Homo sapiens: one gene and its partners. The protein of the gene in region 2 purifies or fractionates together with the protein of the main gene of each other region. This does not show direct contact. Each region holds a gene or a part of one and is shown on either strand. Other genes may lie near its edges.

What was found.
Region 1: the proteins of PPP2R5D (region 2) and PPP2CB purify together in Homo sapiens (affinity purification with mass spectrometry; 10 studies listed by BioGRID and IntAct, with this or other methods). This does not show direct contact.
Region 3: the proteins of PPP2R5D (region 2) and PPP4C purify together in Homo sapiens (affinity purification with mass spectrometry; 7 studies listed by BioGRID and IntAct, with this or other methods). This does not show direct contact.

What each region holds. Positions count from the first base shown.
Region 1 is NC_000008.11:30,809,526-30,817,195, reverse strand, and holds the start of PPP2CB (serine/threonine-protein phosphatase 2A catalytic subunit beta isoform), read left to right. Parts: upstream 1-4,377; 5' UTR 4,378-4,774; coding exon 4,775-4,876; intron 4,877-7,670.
Region 2 is NC_000006.12:42,980,246-42,987,933, forward strand, and holds the start of PPP2R5D (serine/threonine-protein phosphatase 2A 56 kDa regulatory subunit delta isoform), read left to right. Parts: upstream 1-4,324; 5' UTR 4,325-4,432; coding exon 4,433-4,459; intron 4,460-7,688. UniProt on the Homo sapiens protein: The B regulatory subunit might modulate substrate selectivity and catalytic activity, and might also direct the localization of the catalytic enzyme to a particular subcellular compartment.
Region 3 is NC_000016.10:30,071,602-30,079,286, forward strand, and holds the start of PPP4C (serine/threonine-protein phosphatase 4 catalytic subunit), read left to right. Parts: upstream 1-4,392; 5' UTR 4,393-4,493; exon of another isoform or gene 4,494-4,499; intron 4,500-4,713; 5' UTR 4,714-4,776; coding exon 4,777-4,874; intron 4,875-7,685. UniProt on the Homo sapiens protein: Protein phosphatase that is involved in many processes such as microtubule organization at centrosomes, maturation of spliceosomal snRNPs, apoptosis, DNA repair, tumor necrosis factor (TNF)-alpha signaling, activation of c-Jun N-terminal kinase MAPK8, regulation of histone acetylation, DNA damage checkpoint signaling, NF-kappa-B activation and cell migration.

The DNA of each region.
Region 1 (7,670 bases), on a different chromosome or scaffold from region 2:
TGTTCAAGCTGCCAACTCATATATACTAGAAGACAAACCACTATGAGTAAGAGTCAGTGGAAACAAGAAAAACGTCTTCCGTCACTTAAAAATTGTCAGATACACAACATAGAATATCTGAGTATAAAAATGTTTAAAGATATAGAGGAATCCACTTTTGTAGTGTTGTAGTAAGAAATTTGAACCAACCCTTTTACTGAGGTCAGCAAAGGACAAAATGTTCAACATAGCATCTGCTCTGATTCCTTTGCCTTTCAATAATTCCATCTCTTGTTTGATAAATTTGAAAAGGTTTTTTAGAACTACGTTTTTGGGCAGAAGGGTGAGAATAGAGGATGAGAACTATGATCTTTTTATTGATCATGATTTGTTGTTTTTAAATGCAAAGAAAGCATTTCCAATTTGATTTTTTCTATATTAATTTTAATTTTTGTAATCATTATCAATAGATATTCTTATGCAGAATTCCCTGTGACAATTTTGATAATATCATATTCACATTCTAAGTATCAGAAGGTATTTGAACTGGAAATGAAAGTATTTCTTTAATCATTTGAGGATTACAGTGATATAGGAGAATCATTTTTAGACCCATACAATGTATAATTGTAGCATATAATTATGTGGATACATTACAAGATATAAATGATTCATATTTCATATTTTAAATGGTATATAATACATTAGGAAAAATATCAATGTTTATATATTTTAAAAGAGCCTAGTCAATTAAGTAGGAAGAAAATCTCACATGTACTTTTAAGGCAAATAATCTGTGGAAGATTTCTTTTTAATTATTTAACCAAAAGGAGAGAGGTAAACAGAATAACAATAAGAAAACCTCTAGGTCAAAAAAGAAAATTAGATCTGGCCTATAAACCTAAGATTAAATGCAGTTTGGCATGACAAGTAATTTAGCAAGGATTGGAGGTTGATGGTTATGTTCTGAAGGAGAACACACACACACAGACACACACACAAACACACACGTCTGACAGAAGCAGAAAGCAAAAAAGAAATAAGTTTAAGAATTATTGTTCTTCCAGACTGGCCCACATGTTGAAACCCTGTCTTTACTAAAAATACAAAAATTAGCCGGGTGGTAGTGGCATGCACCTGTAATCCCAGCTACTTGGGAGGCTGAGGCAGGAGAATCGCTTGAGCCTGGGAGGTGGAGGTTGCAGTGAGCCAAGATCGTACCACTGTGCTCCAGTCTGGGTGGCAGAGTGAGACCCTATCTCAAAAAAAAAAAAAAAAAAGAATTATTGTTCTTATTTATAATTAAGAGACCGTCACAACCAAAATAGCAAAAACTGATATTGTAAGTCATCAAGCCCCTTGGCCAATCTACCATTCTTGGGCTTTCCATGTTCCCATCCACACTGCAGGGACCATAGAACATAAAGCATGGAGTAGAACTCATATGTGAGTGTTAATCTGTACCCCACCAGTACTATCTGTGTGACTTGAACATGTATTTAAACCTCTACCTGTCTTTCTTTTCATCTGTAATATGGAAAGTATAATAACACCAGCCTCATGAGGTTACTGGAGCATTAAATGAGAAGCTACATGTAAAAACATTAGTATATAGGAACTACTCAAAGAAAGTATTCTTCTTTGTTCTACATCACTACTTGACTAAACTTCTTAGAAGTACTATTTTCACAAACACCTACTCACCTCTAAGAATATTCTCTCACATTCATTTCAAACACATTTGCTTCTATTTCAAGGACCTCCCTCCCTAACTACCATCCACAGTTCCCACTTGCCCTCAGGGTATATTTTGTTTTCAGTCCATCTTCTCTAGGAACCCTGAACATATTCTCATTCTCACTTTTGTTCCGAGCTTTCCAAGCTTAGCCGAAAATCAGCTTCCTTTTTTATGTATGTATTGAGACAGGATCTCACTTGTTGCCCAGGCTGGAGTTACGGTGGTGCAATCTTGGCTCACTGCAACTTCCGCCTCCTGGGCTCAAATGATCCTCCCACCTCAGCCTCCTGAGTAGCTGGGACTACAGGCATGCGCCACCATGCCCGGCTAATTTTCCGTAGAGACAGGGTTTCACCATATTGCCCAGGCTGGTCTTGAACTCCTGAGCTCAAGTGATCCTCCCACCTCAGCCTCCTAAGGGCTAGGATTACAGGTGTGAGCCACTGCACCTGGCCCAGCCTCCTTTAAAGCCTTATAGACTAACCTCCTCAGAGAATGTAATATCTATTGCAATGATATCTCACCAGTATTGTTTCATCACCTTTTGTGTTTTGTTCAACTGGTTTGCTGCTATTTACAAGCTGTTGAGAGCAGGAGCTCTTCCAGCCTTATTTCCAACAATATAATCTATTTCTGTTGCTAGGAGAATTTATAGCTTTCCAAACAGACAATGAATGGTCTTTCACTCATTTGTCTACTGGCACACGCACAAAAAAATTCCTTAGACCTTCTTTCCTCTTCTCCAGGCAACTTCAAGCTTTTGCCTTGAGAGAAGGTTGAAAATTCAGTTCAATTACCGCTTTTCTAAAGCTTTCTGTAATTGTTCCCTAGGAGGGGTAAGGCAACTAACATATCGCTCCCATACCGTACTATTGGGCAGGCACTTTTAAAACTTAATCTTCACAAAGGTAGGCCTTTTATTGATTTTAACAGATGAAGAATTTGAGGCTTACGGAGGTTTGATGATTGCCCAAGGACATAGCTAGGGGGTTAGCAAACACAAGAACCCTTGCTTTCTGATACAGGATGTTACCTTCCACTTGGGTTCAGCCGCAGTAGTATGTACCTTTAATAGACACAGTATGATCATTTAGCACATGCTATTCAAGGTATCTGGCAGCTAGCAGCTGCTCATGTTACCTAACTGAATTTAGGTCCTCCCTCAAGTACGGCAAAGCCAAACACTGACATTGGGGTTTGTAGTGAAAGTGAGGCATTTATTGCATTGCACCAAGCAAGAAGAATCAGGCAGCTCATGCTTAAGACCCCAACTCCCTGATGGTTTACAGGTAAGGGGTTTTTTGTGTGCTTTTTTTTTTTTTTTTGAAACAGAGTTTCACTCTTGTCACCCATGCTGGAGTGCAATGGCGAGATTTCGGCTCACTGCAACCTCCACCTCCCGATTTCAAGTGATTCATCTGCCTCAGCCTCCCAAGTAGCCGGGATTACAGGCGCCCACCACCATGCCCAGCTAGTTTTTGTATTTTTAGTAGAGAAGGGGTTTCACCATGTTGGCAGGCTGGTCTCCAACTCCTGGCCTCGGCCTCCCAAAGTGCTGGGATTACAGGCATGAGCCACTGCGCCCAGCCCAGGTAAGGATTTTTAAAGGCAGGGAGGCAGAGGTTACAGGCAAAGTCATAAATCAATACATGGAGGCTATACGTGGGTTTGATCTAAAAAGCCAGGATATCTGAAGCAGGGACCCACAGGTCATAGATGGATTCAAAGATTTTCTGATTTGCAATTGGTTAAGGAGGCAAAGCTTTGTGAATTCTTCCAGGCTCCTCAGGAAGAAATTTAGAACAAAGATAGGTAGTTTGAGATCTCCATGCCAGTGGACACCATTTTCCATTTGGTGAGGTCCAGGTTTCTGAAAAACAACTCAGGGACATATGTCGTCTTTAGTTTCTATAGGGAAGCAAACATTTTGTGAATCTAACGTCCTTGGCTACTGTCTTAAGCTATTATTACCTTCTTGCTTATCAGGTTGCTCATTGACTTATTGAGGAAGTTAGGTGCCTGGAATGTCCCTTCAGGGAACTCAAGATTTTCCTTTATTTCCATGCTTGGGGAGGGGGGTGCCTAGATGGCCCCTAAGAGGGGTCCCTGTTCTGTCTCTCAATAAATATTTGTTGAATGAACAAATCATTACAACTCAGTACACATTGCAGAAAATATAGCCAAGAGCTCTGGAGCTGGAAGGGCCACAGATTATCCTACAGAACAATCATTTCACTTTTCTAATGTCGAAAGGGAGGATTCGAGATGTTAGGGGCTACAGGTGAGGCTGGAAATAATTAATTTACTCCATCAATATTGAATGCCTGCTATTGAGTGCTAGACTCTGGGGAGACAATGTTAAGGGAAGCCCAAGTTTTCCAACTCCCTGTCCAGAGCGCTGCAAAGTACTGCAGGAAGCTAAAGTGAGGACAAAGTTCCCAGAGATCAGGATATTTAAAGGGAGAACCAGCAGAGCTTGGTCTGGGGCAGGGTGGGGAAAAGAGGGACCCTGGCCTCCTCGGACCGTTTCTCCGCCAAGCCACGCGAGGGCGCTGTTCTGCTCCTAGGGCGCCGTGTCCCGGCGGCGCCGCCTGCTCGCCTTTTCCCGGCGGAAATGCCCGAGCGATGACGGAAACCCGGAGGGAGGGGAGAGAAAGAGCGAGAGAAGGGGAAAGACAAGTCGGGAGAGGCCGGTAGGCGTGAGGCGGGCCTGAAGCGGCAGCGGGCGGCCTTCGTCCGGCGAGAGCTAGGCCGAGGACCCGCGCCGCGCTCCCCGGCACCTCACCGCGTCCTTCACCGACTCCCGCGGCGCGCGGCCGGGCGGGGAAGGGCGGGCGGGGGTCTCCTCCAGGCTGCGCGCTCGGAGCCGCCTGCTGGGCTTGGGCGGGGCGCGGGGCCCGCGGCCGCCCTACCCGGCTCAGTCCTCCCCCTGTGGGACCTGGCGACGGCGGCGGAGGGAGAGGGGAGCGGCGCCCGGGCCGGGGCCGGGGGCGGGTGGGGAGGGGGGAGGGCGGCGGCCGGGCTGGGGCTCGGGATCCGCATCGGGATCGGGCCGCCATGGACGACAAGGCGTTCACCAAGGAGCTGGACCAGTGGGTCGAGCAGCTGAACGAGTGTAAGCAGCTGAACGAGAACCAAGTGCGGACGCTGTGCGAGAAGGTGAGGGCGCCGCGGGGGCGAGTGCGGGAGCGCGGGGCTGGGACGGGCCGCCGCTTTCCTGCCCGCCCCGGTCCCGTCCGCCCCTGGCCCGGCGCGGCCCACCGGGGGCCTGCGGGGCTGTGGGTCCGGCTCCGGCGTCCACCTAGGCGGCCGGCCCATCGGTTCAGGGCCCGGGGCGTTGGGCTGCCCTCGCCTGCCCCTTCCACCTCCGCCTCACGCCCCCGGCCGGCTGCCCAGATCCCGGGCGTGGGGGGCTCGGGTGCGGACGGGCGGGGAAACGTAGCCCCCTGAGCCAAGCAGGAGGTTGGTCGGGGTCGCCTGCGCTCCACTGGGGAGTTCCTGCCACTCTAGCATTTCCCGAGTGGACTAGCGAGAGCGACGTCCGAAAAGGACCATTTTCAGACCAGTTTCTGAAAATGCAACTAAAATTAACCAGAATGTCGTGCGTATTAATGAACTTGTTAATAAATGCAGAATTTTTGTCAGGTGAACGGGGCACCTCAGAAATCACTAACTCAAGCCGGGCGTGGTGGCTCACGCCTGTGGCCACAGCTACTCGGGAGGCTGAAGCGGGAGGATTGCTTGAGCCCAGGAGTTAGAGACCAGCCTGGGCAACATAGTGAGGCCCCGTCTCCACACACAAAAAATTTTTTTTAATTAGCAGGGTGTGACGGCGGGTGCCTGTAATCCCAGCTATTCGGGAGGCTGAGGCGGGAGGATCGCTTGAGCCCAGGAGGTGGAGGCTGGTTGCAGTGAGTCGAGATCGCGCCACTGCACTCCAGCCTGGGCGACAGCAAAAAAAAAAAAAAAAAAATCGCTGATTCTTGAATGTGCCAAGCGTTTGTTTGCGGAGAGGTAGGCGTGATGGCCAACTGTGATTTTTAAAATAGAGGTTGACTTTGGTGGAAACAGATGGTGACTGGTCTTTGTGTTGAGTGGCTCTTGGAAGTAAAGTGTTGATTTTCAGAAACGAGAGCCGATCTTAAGTTTGGGAACAGTGTTTGCTGGAAATGATAAGTGGGATGTGTGTTTTCATGCACGATAGCACTTTGCAGAAAGTTATTTTTGTTTTTAATATATATAAAGTTTTTTTCCAAAGAATAATAAAACATGCGGGTGATCAGTTCGTTCTTGTACATCGTGAGTGTGTGATCTTCACTTTGTAAATTCTGTATCCATTGTTTTCTTAACCCCTGAAATTATTTCGATCTCTCCATCTTTGAAGTCTAGAGTTGTCCACATTCATCCTTTACAAGGTGGACTAAATAATTTTCATGTATTTTTAGGTTAAAAATTCTCACTTGAAGTGCATGAAGAAGTAACGATGTTATTTTAAAACGTAATCTATAAAATTTTCTTAACCGTAATGTTTAGAAGTCATGATGTGGCAGAAGTGCACTGGAGAAGGAAAGATTTTGTTAGTCTGATTTTAGGGTACTCTTAAGATCATGAAATTTACTTAGAAAAGGAGCACTAATAGATGGTGTTAAGTTACAATATTTTTAACGGGTGTAATGTTGGTCGGGGCCTTTGTGTATTAAGTAACTATTTGTTAACACAGGAGGATTTATTTTTGTAAATAGAAGTGCCAAGCAAGTGGTATTTTTCTCTTTCTGAAACAAACTGCTTACTTGTGGCTTCAGTTGACATTCATTTTTATTGTGATAACCTGTAATTTCATGAGTCTTAAAATTTATGCCTTAAACATCTCTCTCCAGCTCTAATGCGAAGTGAAATGTACAGGTTTGAAATGATCTGAGTCAGTTAACCTGACTATGAGCATCAGAATACAGACTTGAAGTTATGGGTAAAGTGTTAGTTGAATCAGTTTTTCCCATTGACTTCCTTTTTTTGTTTTATTTTTGTTTTGAGACAGAGGCTCAGTCTGTCGCCCAGACTGGAGCGCAGTGGTGCCGTCTCTGTTCACTGCAACCTCCACCTCCGGGGTTCGAGGGATCCTCCTGCCTCAGCCTCCCGAGTAACTGGGATTACAGGTGCATGCAGCCATGCACTGCTAATTTTTGTATTTCTAGTAGAGATGGGGTTTTGCCATGCTGGCCAGGCTGGTCTAGAACTCCTGGCCTGAAGTGATCCCTCAGCCTTCCAAAGTGCTGGGATTACAGGCGCGAGCCTCGTGCACAGCCCCTATTGACTTTCTAATAATTTTAAGATGAACTTCTAGAGAAGAATATTGTACCACTGCTGTACTTTGAAATAATCACACCGGAGTGTCAACGATCACTTGAGGAAGCTTTCTGTATTTGTCAAAAGAGATTATTTTTACTTCGGCTCCTAAATAAATCAGACTAACAGTTCCTAGGACTTCACAGGTATATTTAAGATTATCTCTTGTATCTTACTAGCCTTTTTTGGGGGCGGGGGGGGGACGCAGTCTTGGTGTGTCAGTCAGGCTGGAGTGCAGTGGGGCAATCACCGCTCACTGCAACCTCAACTTCTGGGGCATAAGGGACCCTCCCACTTCAGCCTCTCAAGTAGCTGGGACCACAGGCATGTGTCACCACACCGGGATAATTTTTTTATTTTTTTTATGGGGTCTCACCGTGTTGCCCAGGCTGGTCTCGAACTCTCGGGCTCAAGTGATCCTCCCGCCTTGGCCTCCCAAAGTGCAGGGATTGCGGGAGTGAGCCACCACTCCTAGCCCATTTTTTTTTCTTTGAATATTTGTCCTTACCCACAAAGCATGAATTTGTTAGTGAAATTCATTCATCTTTGTTCTCTACCCCCATTGATGGAGTTGCCAATGGGTTGGAAAAGTGTGATAATACTCATTTCT
Region 2 (7,688 bases):
ATACCCAGCCAATTTTTTTTTTGAGACGGAGTTTCGGTCTTGTTGCCCAGGCCAGAGTGCAATGGCACGATCTCAGCTCACTGCAATCTCCGCTTCCCAGGTTCAAAGAATCTCCTGCCCCAGCCTCCCAAGTAGCTGAGATTACAGGTGTGTGCCACCACACCCAGCTAATGTTGTATTTTCAGTAGAGACGGGGTTTCACCCTGTTGGTCAGGCTGGTCTCGAACTCCTGGCTTCAAGTGAGCCACCTGCTTACGCCTCCCAAAGTGCTGGGATTACAGGCATGAGCCACTGCGCCTGGACTAATTTTTTATTTTTTGTAGAGACAGAGTTTCTCTGTGTTGCCTAGGCTGGTCTCAAACTCCTGGTCTGAAGAGATCCTCAGGCCTCAGCCTCCCAAAGTGCTGGGACTACAGGCATAAGCCATCATGTCCCACTGCATTTCCAATTATTAACAATTATTTTCACTTACAATAAATGAATTGGATGGTGCCAATCTCCATTTTCTAGACCTTACATTCTCTTTCAGCTACTGCTCAGCTTTCTCCATCTCTCCTTTCTTCTTGAGGCAGTCTTCTATTTTGTACATTATACATTCCTGAAAATTTGAAAGACAAATATATGAAAACTATTAGATTTGCATATTATAAGGGGCTGGGCGCAGTGGCTCATGGCTGTAATCCCAGCACTTTGGGAGGCCAAGTGGGTGGACTGCTTGAGGCCAGGAGTTTGAGACCAGCCTGGCCAACATGGTGAAACCCCGTCTCTACTAAAAATACAAAAATTAGCTGGGTATGGTGGTGTGTGCCTGTAGTCCCAGCTACTCGGGAGGCTGAGGCAGGAGAATGGCGTGAAGCCGGGAGACAGAGCTTGCAGTGAGCCGAGACTGCGCCACTGCACTCCAGCCTGGGTGACAGAGTGAGATTCCGTCTCAAAAAAATAAATAATAGAAAAAAATAAATAAAATAGCATGCAAGAATGTACTAACCAGGAACCATGGCTTGTGTCTATAATCCCAGCTATGGGGAGGCTGAGGCAGAAGGATCACTTGAACCCAGGAATTTGAGGCTATGATTGTGCCACTGCACTCCAAGTGGGTGACAGAGCAAGACCTTGTCTCTTAAAATATATAAAATTAAAAGAAAAAAAAACTAAATAAAGAATGTTCTAGGTACCTAGATTCACATGGATGAAAGTTCCCATTTGGTAGTGCTACTATATGTTTCTTGGTCCCCTATGTCCCAGAGGAACCAAGGGCTAGATAGATGGTACATGGGCCTAAAGAGGATATGCCTGCTTTCCTCAGTAGCAGGCAAGCTCTAGGCCTCAGGACTATAGTGCTCCTTGAGGCCTTGGAGATGGGTAAAAACATCAGTTATCTTGCCTGGATCAGCACTCATACAGACACAAATACCCACCCACAAATAAATGTCCTTTTCTCCCAAGCTTTTCTCCCAGCAGGTAACAGCGGGCATGTAGTCCACTTTGTGTTACCCTGAAATCGTCATTAGTCACCGAAAGCCAAATACTACTTCTGTAAGATCGCCAGGACCCTACATTTGCCATCTTCACTTCCTCACCTCTTGATGCTCACTCTTCCACTCACTAAAAACGGTCTTCCACTCTCTGAAAAAATCACCCATAATCTTCTAATTGCAGAATCAAGATGATGCTGTTCTTTCTCTGACACTACTGACCAATTGTCTTTTATTTCCTTTGCCATTATGACACCAGTTGTCCTCCTACAACTCTGATCACTTCCAGAAATCATCCTCAACTCTTCCCTTTCCGTTACCGTCCCCCCCACAATACAATGAATCACCATATCCTGTTGATTCTACACATTTTCATGCTCCATCCTCTCTTCTCCATCCCCACGGCCACTGTCTTGTAACATTGCTCTCCTGGGTACCTGGGTAAGGGACACAGGTTTTGTGTTTTTTTTTTTTTTTTTCAGATGGAGTCTTGCCCTGTCGCCCAGGCTGGAATGCAATGGTGCGATCTCGGCTCACTGCAAACTCCACCTCCCGGGTTCAATGGATTATCCTGCCTCAGCCTCCTGAGTAGCTGGGATTACAGGCACCCACCGTCATGCCTGGCTAATTTTTGTATTTTTGTAGAGACGGGGTTTTGCCATGTTGGCCAGGCTGGTCCTGAACTCCTGACCTCAGGTGATCCGCCCTCCTCAGTCTCCCAAAGTGCTGGGATTACAGGCGTGAGCCACTGCGCCTGACCTTTTTTTTTTTTAAGACTAAATATTTTATTTTATATAGAATTTTAAAAATTTATTTTTTGTACATGAATAAGTTCTTTAGTGGTGATTTATGAGATTTTGATGCAGCCATCACCCAAGCAGTGTATACTGTACCCAATGTGTAGTATTTTTTTTTTTTTTTGAGACGGAGTCTTGCTCTGTCGCCCAGGCTGGAGTGCAGTGGCATGATCTAGGCTCACTGCAACCTCTGCCTCCCGGGTTCACGCCATTCTCCTGCCTCAGCCTCCCGGGTAGCTGGGACTACAGGCGCCTGCCACCACGCCCGGCTATTTTTTTGTATTATTTTAGTAGAGACGGGGTTTCATCGTGTTATCCAGGATGGTCTCGATCTCCTGACCTCGTGATCCGCCCGCCTCGGCCTCCTAAAGTGCTGGGATTACGGGCGTGAGCCACCGCGCCCGGCCTCCATTGTATCATTCTCATGCCTTTGCATCACAGGTTTCTTCTTTTTTTTTTGTAGACGGAGTCTTGCTCTGTCGCCCAGGCTGGAGCGCAGTGGCATGATCTCGGCTCACTGCAACCTCCACCTACCGGGGTCAAGTAATTCTCCTGCCTCAGCCTCCTACCGGGTTCAAGTGATTCTCCTGCTTCAGTCTCCCGAGTAGCTGGGACTACAGGCGCGCGCCACCACGCCCCGCTAATTTTTGTATTTTTCATAGAGGCATGGTTTCACCATGTTGGCCGGGATGGCCTCGATCTCTTGACTCGTGATCCGCCCACCTCGGCCTCCCAAAGTGCTGGGATTACAGGCGTGAGCCACCGCACCCTGTCTAATTTTTGTATTTTTAGTAGAAATGGGGTTTCACCACTATGGTCAGGCTGGTCTCAAACTCCTGACCTCGTGATCTGCCCACTTTGGTCTCCCAAAGTGTTGGGACTACAGGCGTGAGCCACCGAGCCTGGCCACAGGTTTATTCTTTTTGTCGTCATTGTTGCTGTTTTGAGACAGAGTCTTGCTCTGTCGCCCAGGCTGGAGTGCAGTGGTGTGATCTCGGCTCACTGCAACCTCCGTCTCCCGGGTTCAAGTGATTCTCCTGCCTCAGCCTCCCGAGTAGCTGGGATTACAGGCGTGCACCACCACACCCAGCTAATTTTTGTATTTTTAATAGAGACGGGGTTTCGCCATGTTGGCCAGGCTGGTCTCGAACCTCTGACCTCAGGTGATCCTCCTGCCTCAGCCTCCCAAAGTGTTGGGATTACAGGCGTGAGACACCGTGCCTGCCTGGTTTACATTCTCTCTTAATCCTTTGTTTATACACATCTGTGATTCACCAGACTGCGAACTCTTTGTGGGCATAAACTGAGTCTTACCCATTAGAACACGGACTTGAGCAGGGTGGCAAGTAAGGGATGGATTTCCTGAGACAGTCAACAATGAAGTTGCTTTTCCACTGCGTTCCCAACTGCTCAAATCTAGCTGGTTCCCCAATCCCAGTACACTTGCAGTAGCAACGGGGACCCTCTTCCTAAAGTTGCACCAAGCCAGGGATTCTCCACTCATTTCGCCCAGGTCCTAGCCCTGCCAGGCTTCCCCTTTGCTCCTCTGCAACCCCTGTCTAGGGAGGCGGGTGTCTTGGAAGGTCCTTGGGAGCTCCCTCCATCAATTTTGCATCTGCAATTAGGGCTACTTTACCCCAGTGAAGAAAGGTGCCCTCCGTATTAGGGCTTCCTTCCTCCAATTCCGACTGGACAGGGTAGCAGAGCGGGCAAAGTGTGAGAGCCTTTAGAAGGAAAGAGCAGGGCTCCAAGCGCCGCGAAGAATGGCCGAGGCCGACGCACAGCAGACGCTGGAGTGCAGCCCTCCTAGCCAAGCTTGGGTTTCCCCTTATCCCCGCCTCCTTCTCTAAGCTCGACCCACTTTAGGGCGGGACCACCCACTTCAGCCAATTCTGGAAGCCGAACCCTGGCGGTTTGTACTATTTCTTTCCAATAAGAAAAAAAGGAAGCAGCTTGGCTCCAATGACCAATCCGAGGAGGCGGCGCCTGGTTGTCAGGCAGTTTTGTAGGAGTTCGGGCCAATTGGAGGCGCAGGCACCGCTCGACCCGGGCGCAGCGCGCAGGCGGTGGCGAAGAGACGCCGAGCGGGCCGAGTGCGGCCGAGCAAAGCCGGAGCCGGAGCGGGGCCGCAGGAGACGGGCCGGGTCCGGACGGGCCGAGATGCCCTATAAACTGAAAAAGGAGAAGGTGAGCGTGGCCCTTTTTCCCCCACCGCCGCCTTGGAGCCTGCGCGGAGCTCTGGGAGGGGCCGGAGCCAGGCCCGGGACAGCCCCAGACTGACCCTCCCGTCCAGCCCCCGCAGGACTCCTGGGGCCAGCCCTCCGCCCCCGCGGCTGGCAGCACCCCCAGCTTGTGCCGCAGCTAGGACAGCTCCCCCACCTTGCCCCGGAGAGACTCCCCCCACATACACCTCCCTCCCTTCTTCCCTTCTCTTACCCCCGGCCCAGGGTAACCTCCTTCTTCCAGATCTGCCCCATTCCCAGGTCACTGTCCTGCTTTTTCTGTCCCCCCCATCACCCCTGGCCCCGATCCCCCTTCGGTTTGGGCAGCCCCTCATCTGAAACTGCACCTTCCTCCAGAATTGCCCCCTCGCCCCGCCCTGAGCAGCCCCTTGTCTCCTCTTCCTACCCGCCTGGGACAGCCGCCCCGCAGTCCCCTACGGCCCCTTCTCTTTCCATGCCAAGCCCCTGACCTAGAACAGCGCTGCTTTCTCTCTCCTCCACCCAAATCTGGCCTAGGCCCCTCCCTCTAGTTCTTCCTTCACACACAAACTTGTAAGCAGGACTGAGCCCTTCTGTTGATGGAACCTCACAACGTTGGTGCTGGAAGGGACCTCTGAGCGCATGCAGTGCAATCCCTAATGGTACAGATGAGGAGACTGAGGCCCCGACAGGGCAAGGGACTTGTCCAAGGTCACACAGCCTGCTGGAGGCCCAGCTGCAATATCAGGTCTCCTGACTTAAAGGCCTCTTTTGTATCAAAGCCCTCCTAACTGTCACCCAAGTGCATCCTAGACCAGTCACCTTTCCTAATCTGAGTAGGCTCCTCACCCTTATTCTTAATCCTAGGATAACCTTTGCATTTTTCCTTTTTTTTTTTCTTTTCGCACCAGTGCTGGATTTCTGCCTTTCCTAAGCTACACCATCTTCAAATTGGGAATTTGTCCTCACTGTCAGATTATTGTTCCTTCTTAGCCTGCAGGCCAGCCACCCCTGAACACCCATGTCTTTATCATGATGTCCTGACACAGGCCATTTCTTTTTTTTTTTTTTTTTTTGAGATGGAATTTTGCTCTTGTTGCCCAGGCTGGAGTGCAATGGCGCGATCTCGGCTCACCACAACCTCTGCCTTCTAGCTTCAAGCGATTCTCCTGCCTCAGCCTCCCAAGTAGCTGGAATTACAGGCATGCGCCACCACATCCGGCTAATTTTGTATTTTTAGTAGAGACGGGGTTTCTCCATGTTGATCAGGCTGGTCTTGAACTCCTGACCTCAGGTGATCTGACCCCCTCGGCCTCCCAAAGTGCTGGGATTACAGGTGTGAGCCACCGTGCCTGGCCCACAGGCCAGTTCTTAATGTTGCCTTCTTTCACCTTCCTCATCTACCTCGGTGCTGCCTTCCCCTGCTCCTCATCCGTGCCTTTTTCTACCCTCTGTTTCCTGCTGTTGCTGAGGTCTGACTCAGAGGTGTGGTTCCTTTGAGGTACAGACTCACACATAGGATGCTAGGATACCAGTTCCAGCCTCCCCCAGCTTCTCCTCTCCTGGGGCTGGCCCTTTTTGGTGGGGGTTGGCTCTGGCCTGGTGTTCTGGCCACCTGCTCGATGACCCCAGAGGTATATTGCTTTCATTTGCCCTCTGATTGGCTGGGTTACTGGGCTGCCATCTCTGACCTTTTCAATCAAACTTTTTCTCCTGGGGCTGTTCTGTATTTGCCAGGCAGCTCTGATTCTGAGTTGTCCCCTTAACCTTTCAGGGCCTGAGGTTCTAAGTACAGGGTTGGTGATGGTGTACTAGATAGTGAGCCTCCTGGGAGTAGTGAGCTGGACAGGGTTTTGTGCCCCACCCAGGCCCTGTCCTTGGGGAGTGGGCATGCGGAGGTGGTTTGGGTAGCTCAGTCGTAGACAATGCACACAGAAATCAGCCACAACAGGGGCTAAGGGAAATGGAATTCGGGGAAAGCTGGTGAGGTCCCCACCCATTTGTAATTTTTAGTCTGTTGGACTAGATACTGTCCCATCCACAGAAAGCAATAGCCTACTAGATTGTGAAGAAGACAAATTGCCAGTGAGATTTGCTAGGACCATGGGTGTAAACGTTTGGTTGGGAAAGGGTGTTGGAAGTAACGGGGTGCATGGAGCCAGGCATAACTCTCACCTCCCTATAAGGTTTTTCTGCTCTTGATTTTCAGTTGCATTTGGCCTTCTTCAATGGTTGGCAGGCTCTAAGGGGCAGGGGGGTTGCCAGTGTGACTGAGGTTTGTCTGGATGGCTGTGGGTGGAGGATCTTTATTGCTCATCTATGACCTGTCCCCTCTCTCCTGGCCATCTTTCACAGCTTCCTCTCTAAAGCCTTTCTGAGCCCTCAGTCAGGAGTGAACTCTCCTTTCTTTTCTGGATTTGCAGAACACTTAGTAGGCCACTTATGGTCCTTTTGTGTTTGGCCTTGGATGGGAATTAATTGTGGACAAGACTTTTCTTCCCCTTTGAGATAATAACTAAGTTTCATTTTGGTTTGACAACTCCTTTTCACACGGTAAGTACGTGCTTAGTGGATAGGTGCTAAGATAATCTCTTGGAGGGATTCGCATCTCTCCTCTTCCTTCATGTTCTCCTCTGGGACTTACCTCTTTTATTTTCCTGAGTAGGGTGCCCCTGCCCCCTCCGATTTTTTTCTTGTTCATAATAATAGTAATAACATTGACCAGCACTACGGTTTTCATGTGCCTTAACACTGTGCTGAGGGAAGAGGGTATTATGATTGTCATCATCTAATAGATGAGGAAACTGAGGCTCAGAGAGGCTAGTTAACTTGCCTGTGATTACACAGCCAGTAAGAGTTGGGCCCAAAACACAGGGCTGAGTCCAAACATGTTCTTTTAACCTCTGTGCTACACAGCATTTGACTACTGAGCTGGGCTGAAATGTGTGTGCTTCACCTGTTCTGCAGGAGCCAGGGAGCAAGGGTGGTAGGCCTGGTTCCTCCATGCCCACTCACACCCACACACTAAGGCAGCTGGATCTCTCTTAGGCTCATTCTTTGAAAGATACGTCTGAGGCATCATGCTGAGTGCTGTAGGGTGGGTGGAGGGGTACAAAAAAGAATAAGCAGCTTATGGTCTAATAGATTGGAGATGTATGAAGATGGGTCAGCTTTGTTCAAGGGGTTCATGTCTGGGGTGTGTGCAGACACCTCAA
Region 3 (7,685 bases), on a different chromosome or scaffold from region 2:
TTGGGCTGTGGAATCCCATAAAAACCTTGAATTGTTTCCAATACCCCCTTGGTAATGCAGATACAGAAGTTAAGCTGTAGAGCTCAGGCTCCAGGTGAAGAACTGTGTCTCTGTAGCTGCTGCTTTCCATGAAGCTAGAATGAGCGTGCCATGCCATTACTTTGAGCCTTTCCCCAATGACCCAGGCTGGGGTGTACAGTAACTACATCAGCTCTCTGGACCTAGAGAATCTCTGCAGTGATTCAGGTAGAACGGAGTTACCTAGAACCTTCTAGGAGTATAAAAACTTGGTCCTAGGCCGGGTGCGGTGGCTGACGCCTATAATCCCATCATTTTGGGAGACCAAGGTGGGCGGATCATGAGGTCAGGAGTTTGAGACCAGCCTGGACAACATAGTGAAACCTTGTGTCTACTAAAAATACAAAAATTAGCCGGGCATAGTGGCGCACACCTGTAGTTTCAACTACTTGGGAGGCGGAGGCAGGAGAATTGCTTGAACCCAGGAGGCAGAGGTAATGGTGAGCCGAGATTGTGCCACTGCACTCCAGCCTAGGCAACAGAGCCAGACTCCGTCCCAAAAAATAAAAATAAAACTTGGTCCTTCCCTTTTCTGCTTATTTTGCTTTTATTGCTTACATCTAAAACAAAACCAATCACTATTATCCCTCTAAACTTTGGATTAATTTGTCTGCCTAGCTCATTCAACTCTGGGAAACAAACACTGAAGTAAAGCAAATAAAAATTGAAGGTCGGTAGAAGATGGCAAAGGGGGCATTCCAAAAGGGAACATGTGCAGAGTCTCAGAGACTGGAGAGATTGTTTAAAGATCAATAGTTTCAGCCGGGCACGGTGGCTCACAACTGTAATCCTAGCACTTTGGGAGGCTAAGTCCGGCGGATCACGAGGTCAGGAGTTCAAGACCAGCCTAGCCAATGTGGTGAAACCCCCGTCTCCACTAATAATACAAAAATTAGCTGGGCATGGTGGCGCGCGCCTGTAGTCCCAGCTACTCGGGAGACTGAGGCAAGAAGAGTCGCTTGAATCTAGGAGGTGGAGGTTGCGCTGAGCCAAGATTGTGCCACCACACTCCATCCTGGGCAACAGAGCGAGACTCCGTCTCAAAAAAAAAAAAATAAAAAAGACTAGAGAAGCAGAGAACGTCATATACCAGTTTGGGGGATTTGGACTTTTATTTATTTATTTATTTTGAGACGAAGTCTCGCTCTGTAGCCCAGGCCGGAGGGCAGTGGCACGATCTGGGCTCACTGCAACCTCTGCCTCCCGGGTTCAAACCGATTATCCTGCCTCAGCCTCTCCAGAGTAGCTGGGATTACAGGTGCACGCTACTGCACCCGGCTAATTTTTTGTATTTTTAGTAGAGACGGGGTTTCACCATGTTGGCCAGGCTGGTCTTGAACCCCCAATCTCAGGTAATCCGCCTGCCTTGGCCTCCCAAAGTGCTAAGATTACAGGCGTGAGCCACCATGCCTGGCCTGGACCTCTTAATTTTATGATAATCTGAGTTCCCGAAAGAGTAATTGATAGAAAAAAAAACTACACCTGAGGACACAACTTTCTGAGTTCAAATTTCTTTTTTTTTGAGACAGCATTTCACTCTGTTGTCCAAGCTGGAGTGCGGTGTCACAATTTCGGCTCACTGCAACCCCCGCCTCCTGGGTTCAAGCGATTCTCCTGCCTCAGCCTCCCAGGTAGCTGGGACTACAAGCGCATCACCAAACCTAATTATTATTATTTTTTATTTTTTAGGATAGACAGGGTTTCACCATGTTGGTCAGGCTGATCTTGAATTCCTGACCTCAGGTGATCCACCTGCCTCGGCTGCCCAAAGTGCTGGGATTACAGGTGTGAGCCACCACACACAGCCAGGTTCAAATTTCTTTCTTTTTTTTTTTTGAGACAGAGTCTCGCTCTGTTGCCCAGGCTGGAGTCCAGTGACGCAATCTTGGCTCGCTGCACGCTCTGCCTCCTGGGTTCACGCCATTCTCCTGCCTCAGCCTCCCAAGTAGCTGGGACTACAGGCGCCCGCCACCACGCCCAGCTATTTTTTTGTATTTTTAGTAGAGACGGGGTTTCACTATGTTAGCCAGGATGGTCTCGATCTCCTGATCTCGTGATCCGCCCGCCTCAGCCTCCCAAAGTGCTGGGATTACAGGCGTCAGCCACCGCGCCCAGCCCAAGTTTCTTATTCTTTTTGTTTATAGACTGGGTCTCACTCTGTTGCCCAGCCTGGTCTTGAACTCCTGGGCTTAAGTGATTCGCCTCGGCCTCCCAAAGTGCTGGGATTACATGCTTGAGCCACCACACCTAGCCCCGGATTCAAATTTCAGTGTAACATCCCCAATCCACTGTTATACAAGCAATGAACAAGTTATTTAACCCCTCTGAGCCAGTTTCCTCCTCTTAAAAAAGGCACAAAACTTAATAGAAAGCAACTAAGAAGCCAGGCACGGTGGCTCAAGCTGGTAATCCCAGCACTTTCCGAGGCCGAGGAGAGTGGATCACCTGAGGTCAGGAGTTCGAGACCAGCCTGACCAAAATGGTGAAACCCCGTCTCTATTAAAAATGCAAAAATTAGCTGGGCGTGGTGACGGGTGCTTGTAATCCCAGCTACTCAGGTGGCTGAGGCAGGAGAATTGCTTGAACCCAGGAGGCGGAGGTTGCGGTTTGCCAAAATCGCTCCACTGCACTCCCGCCTGGGCGACAAGAGCAAGGAAGGCTCTGTCTTAAAAAAATAAATAAATGAAAATACAAAAATTAGCCAGGCGTCGTGGCACATGCCTGTAATCCCAGCTACTTGGGAGGCTGAGGCAGGAGAATCGCTTGAACCTGGGAGGCGGAGGTTGCAGTGAGCCGAGATTGTGCCACTGCACTCCAGTCGGGGTGAAAAAGCAAGACTCCGTCTCAAAAAAAAAAAAAAAAAAAAAAAAAGAGGCCGGGCACGGTGGTACACGCCTGTGGTACAGCACTTTGGGAGGCTGAGGCAGGTGGATCATGAGGTCAGGAGATCGAGACCATCCTGGCTAACACGGTGAAACCCCGTCTCCACTAAAAAATACAAAAAAATTAGCCGGGCCTGGTGGCGGGCGCCTGTAGTCCCAGCTATTCAGGAGGCAGAGGCAAGAGAATGGCGTGAACCCGGGAGGCGGAGCTTGCAGTGAGCCGAGATGGCGCCACTGGACTGCAGCCTGGGCGACAGAGCGAGAGAGTGAGACTCTGTCTCAAAAAGAAAAACGGAAGCAACTAAGAAATGTCAAGAGTGCCATTTTGGAATCAGAGAAGTCATGCTGACTGAGGCACAGGCTTGGCGTGGGAAAAGTGGACTCCAATCTGTTAACTTCTGAAGTTGTCCACGGCAAATATTTCTCTGACGGCACAGGAAGAGATCTGAACTTGGCTTCCCTCATCCATTGAACAAGTATTAACAAGTATCTATATATGCCTACCGTGCCAGGCCTTATTCTAACCACTGGGGCTGCAATATTTAAAAAGACAAAGTTGGATCCTCCAAGGACTGTGGTGGGGAAGGCTGACAAAACAAGTAACAAAAATGTGTAACATTAAAAAAAAAGTGTAATGTTAAAAAAAAAAAGTGTAATAAAGTTACAAAGCCTAGCCCCAGCTCGGCTTGTTTCCCTAGCTGAAATGGGGGATGGCCGGGCGCGGTGGCTCACGCCTGTAATCCCAGCACTTTGGGAGGCCCGAGGCGGGAAGATAGCTTGTGCCCAGGAGTTCGAGGTCACAGTGACCTATGATAGCCCCACCGACTCCAGCCTGAGCGATAGAGCGAGACCCTGTCTCTAATTTAGAAAAAAGAAAGTTGTGGCCGGGCGCGGTGGCTCACGCCTGTAATCCCAGCACTTTGGGAGGCCGAAGGGTGGTGGTGGGTGGGGGCGCGGATCACCTGAGGTAGGGAGTTAGAGACCAGCCTGACCAACATGGAGAAACCCCGTCTCTATTAAAAATACAAAATTAGCCCAGCGTGGTAGCGCATGCCTGTAATCCCAGCTACTCAGGAGGCTGAGGCAGGAGAATTGCTGGAACCCGGGAGGCGGAAGTTGCGGTGAGCCGAGTTCGTGCCATTGCACCCCGGCCTGGGCAACAGCAAAACTCCGTCTCAAAAAAAGAAAAGACAGTTGTTTAAACATTTTTATGAAATGATATGGGAGGGGACTGGTCTAGGGTTTCTAATAGCCTCCACATCGCCCAGCGGCAGAGCCCACAAAACTGCCACTGGCCGCCACCGGGTTCCTCCACCTCCTTCCCGATCTCAGGCTGGAGAAGTGGTGCAGGGGTCGCTGCGAAAGGAGAGGAGCGTGTATGACGCCACATCCGGCGCGCGGCGGAACTGGCCTCCTTTGCTTCCGCGGCGGGGCCGGAAGTAGGAGCGGCGGCGGCGGCGGCGGCGGCGGTCGAAAGCGGAGTGAAAGAGGGAGGCAGGGAGCCGGAGAGCCGGAACCGGAGTCGCAGCGGCGGTAATAGTGCGAGACTCCTCTAAGTCACCGTCCTTAGCGCGGGACCGCGGGGTTCGACGGGAGTTAGCGGGGGTGCGGCCAGGCCGTTGGACGCCGGGGGGTCCTGGGGCCGATGTGAGGGGAGGCGGGGGTGGGGGAGCCGGGCCGGCTCTAGAATCGAGTTGTCCGCTCCGAGCCCCGGACGGACACTGATCCGCGGGCTCGTCTTGGCCTTTCCCAGGAGACCCCTGTGCGGTGCGGAGGGGGCGGCGGCCCCGACTCTGACCCGCGCCGGGGGTGGGCCATGGCGGAGATCAGCGACCTGGACCGGCAGATCGAGCAGCTGCGTCGCTGCGAGCTCATCAAGGAGAGCGAAGTCAAGGCCCTGTGCGCTAAGGCCAGGTGAGCTCGTTGGCCCTGGGGAAGGGAGGCCAAGCCGCCGCCCACGGGTTCTGGCCTGGGGCAAACCCAACTGAGAACTTTGGGCTTGCCTCGTTCTGGAAGCTTTCCCAGAGAGGAGCAGGATGGAGCCGCTGCCCTCGAGGAAAAGCTAGCCTGCTCGGGGAAGACAGAGTGGATAAAGACACTTAAAGTTTATTAGACGATGTGTTTCCAGTGGAGTAAGAGTGTTACATAAAGTACTTAGGAAACTCAAGGAAACAAGTCCATCTGTCGGGGGACGGAAGCTTGTTGGAGGGGGGCCGAACTGTGGGAGAGGCCTCGAATAAGGAGGTGGTAAAAGAGTCAGCCAAAAACCAAAAGTTTAAGACAGGAAAGTTAAAGACCCTGTGATTTATAAAAGTCTTCTAATTACAACAACCCTTAAAGATTGGTGGTATTGTACTCATTTTACAGGTGGGAACTTTCATGTTCAAAGTTACCCACAAGTAAGGAATGGGGTCTGAAGCCAGCTCTTAGTGTCCTGTCCTTTTTCAGGCCATAATGCAAAAAGGTGGAGTTGGATCATTCACGTTCAGGGTGGGAGCCTGAGAAATCGTAGCAAGTAAGCCAGGGTAGAATTAAGCACGATAGGGAGGCCAGTTCAGAGTTCTGTGGGAAGTAGGATGATGTAGTGGTTAAGGCTCTAGGTTTTGCAGTGTGAGATGGCTCTAGGTTTGAATCTGAACTCTGCCGCTTTCTAGCTGTGTTAGTAATCTTAAGTGTCTTTATTTGTAAAGCAGAATTAATAGTACTTAATAAGATGATTGTGAAGATTCAGTGAGTTGGTGCTGGAGATGAGGTTAGCACAGTGTTTTGGTACAGCATACGTGCTTGATAATCACCAGGTATTCTATTTCTTTTGGAAGAGGGCAATAATGAGATGGGCTAAAGCCATCAGGGAGGGCTTTTGAGTGGAGGTAGGCCTTGAAGGATGAAGATAATTTGGCTAGCTGATGGAGGCAGGGCCAGTGAGGGAAGGGCATTCCAAGCAGGACGAATGTAACAGTGGAGGCCCTGAGATGCGTGGGGAACAGTCAGGGGTTTAATTACCTGCCTCCTCTGGGGAACTGTGTGATTGTGGCTTCTACCAGGCTGGAGAATTGTGGCAGAAGAGCCCACAGAATTACCCTACGTTTATTGAACAGTAAACATTGGCCTTTACAGGGCCACTATTTGGCCTGGCCCGGTACTGGCAAAAAACTTCTATCCATCTCTTCCCCCCAGCAATCCTATGAGGTTGGAATCATTTGCTGCATTTTATCGAATAGGAAGCCATGACTCGTAGAGGTCTGGTGACTTAACTGAGGTCACCCACTGAGGACGTGGCAGAGCTGGGTCCTGAATCTGTGGCCCTCAGGCTCTTTGCCTGGCCCTGCCTCACATAGACTACCTGCAGCCAGACAGGGCCTGTGAGGGGATGATGAGCAGGGTCGGCCTCTTTTTCGCCACCTGTCTGTGGCTTTTCTCTTTTGCCAGCTGACCAGACCAGCCCCATGGTGTTTTTAGTTGTCCCCTTTCCCTCAGTCCTGATTGGCATTTTTAGGAACTTAAACCTGTTGTTGCCTGGCACTATTCTTTAACCTCGAAGTATTGTCTCCCTCACGGGCCCTGGATCAGTGTGGTGGTGATGGTAGACAAAGCTTAGATAGCATGCTGGAGTTTGCAGAATAGCAGGAAGTCGTATATTCAGTCTCCATGGCTCCTTGCAACAGCCTAAGGAATACGCAGGGTGGGCTGAGTACTTAGCCCCATTTCATAGCAGAGGAAACTGAGCCTTTGAGTAGATAATGTCTTGCCCAACATCACGCAGCTAGTCGGAGGGGAAGTTAGTTTTGCATCCAGGTCTTTGACTGTGCTCCGTGGTCACTGAGAGCCAGGCAGAGGCATTTAGATTTTGATGTGGGGTGTGAGGCAGCAGGAAGCCATGGAAGGCTGAGGGGTGGAGGGTCCTGCCCAGTTGAAACTGAGTGGAACTAGGAGGTACTAGGCCAAGGCCTGAGTTGGCCGCTGTTGTCCCAGGCTCAGTCTGAAGCAGGGCCATCTCTGATACCTGGTTATGGCCTCCTGGGGACCCATCAGAGACCCAGGCTGAGGCTGGTGGTGTCAAGAGCACCAGCTTGCCTAGAGGGCACAGACATGCAGATGAAACCAGTGGAAGCACAGAGGTCCGCAGTGTCTGAGCTGAAATTGCTGCTACTAGAAATATTAGCACAGTAGGAGAGCTGAGCTTTTGAATCAGGTGGTCTTCAGTATGAATCTTTGCCTTGTCACCTAGAAGCAATATGACCCTCGTCAAGTCACTTTCTGATTTTTTGAAGTGATAATGACATGCAGTTGAGAGTCCGGGTATCCGGGCACAGGGCCTGCTGCGCTGGTAGCCGTTACTGCAGGCAGGTCCTGATAGGGCTGGGGAAGTGCTGCAAGTGGCAGAACTGGGGCTGGAATCTGGGCCTGATTCCCAGGCCACACTGGGGTTGCGCTGGCACTGAGGGGGGCTTTGCAGAGAGCACGGGCCCTGCATGTGACCTCCCTGGGCTTCAGGTTTTCACTCAGGGTCTGTGGAAGGGGCTGGCATAAATTCTCAGGAAATTGGGCTTCTGGGTTCCAATTTAGCCACTCTCCAGCTTGGTGACCTTGACCCTCCCGCTTTTCTGTAAGCTTTGGTTTCTTTTTTTCTTTTTTTTTTTTTTTGAGACAGAGTTTTGCTGTTGTTGCCCAGGCTGGAGTGCCAGTGGCCTGATCTTGGCTCACTGCAACCTCCACCTCCTAGGT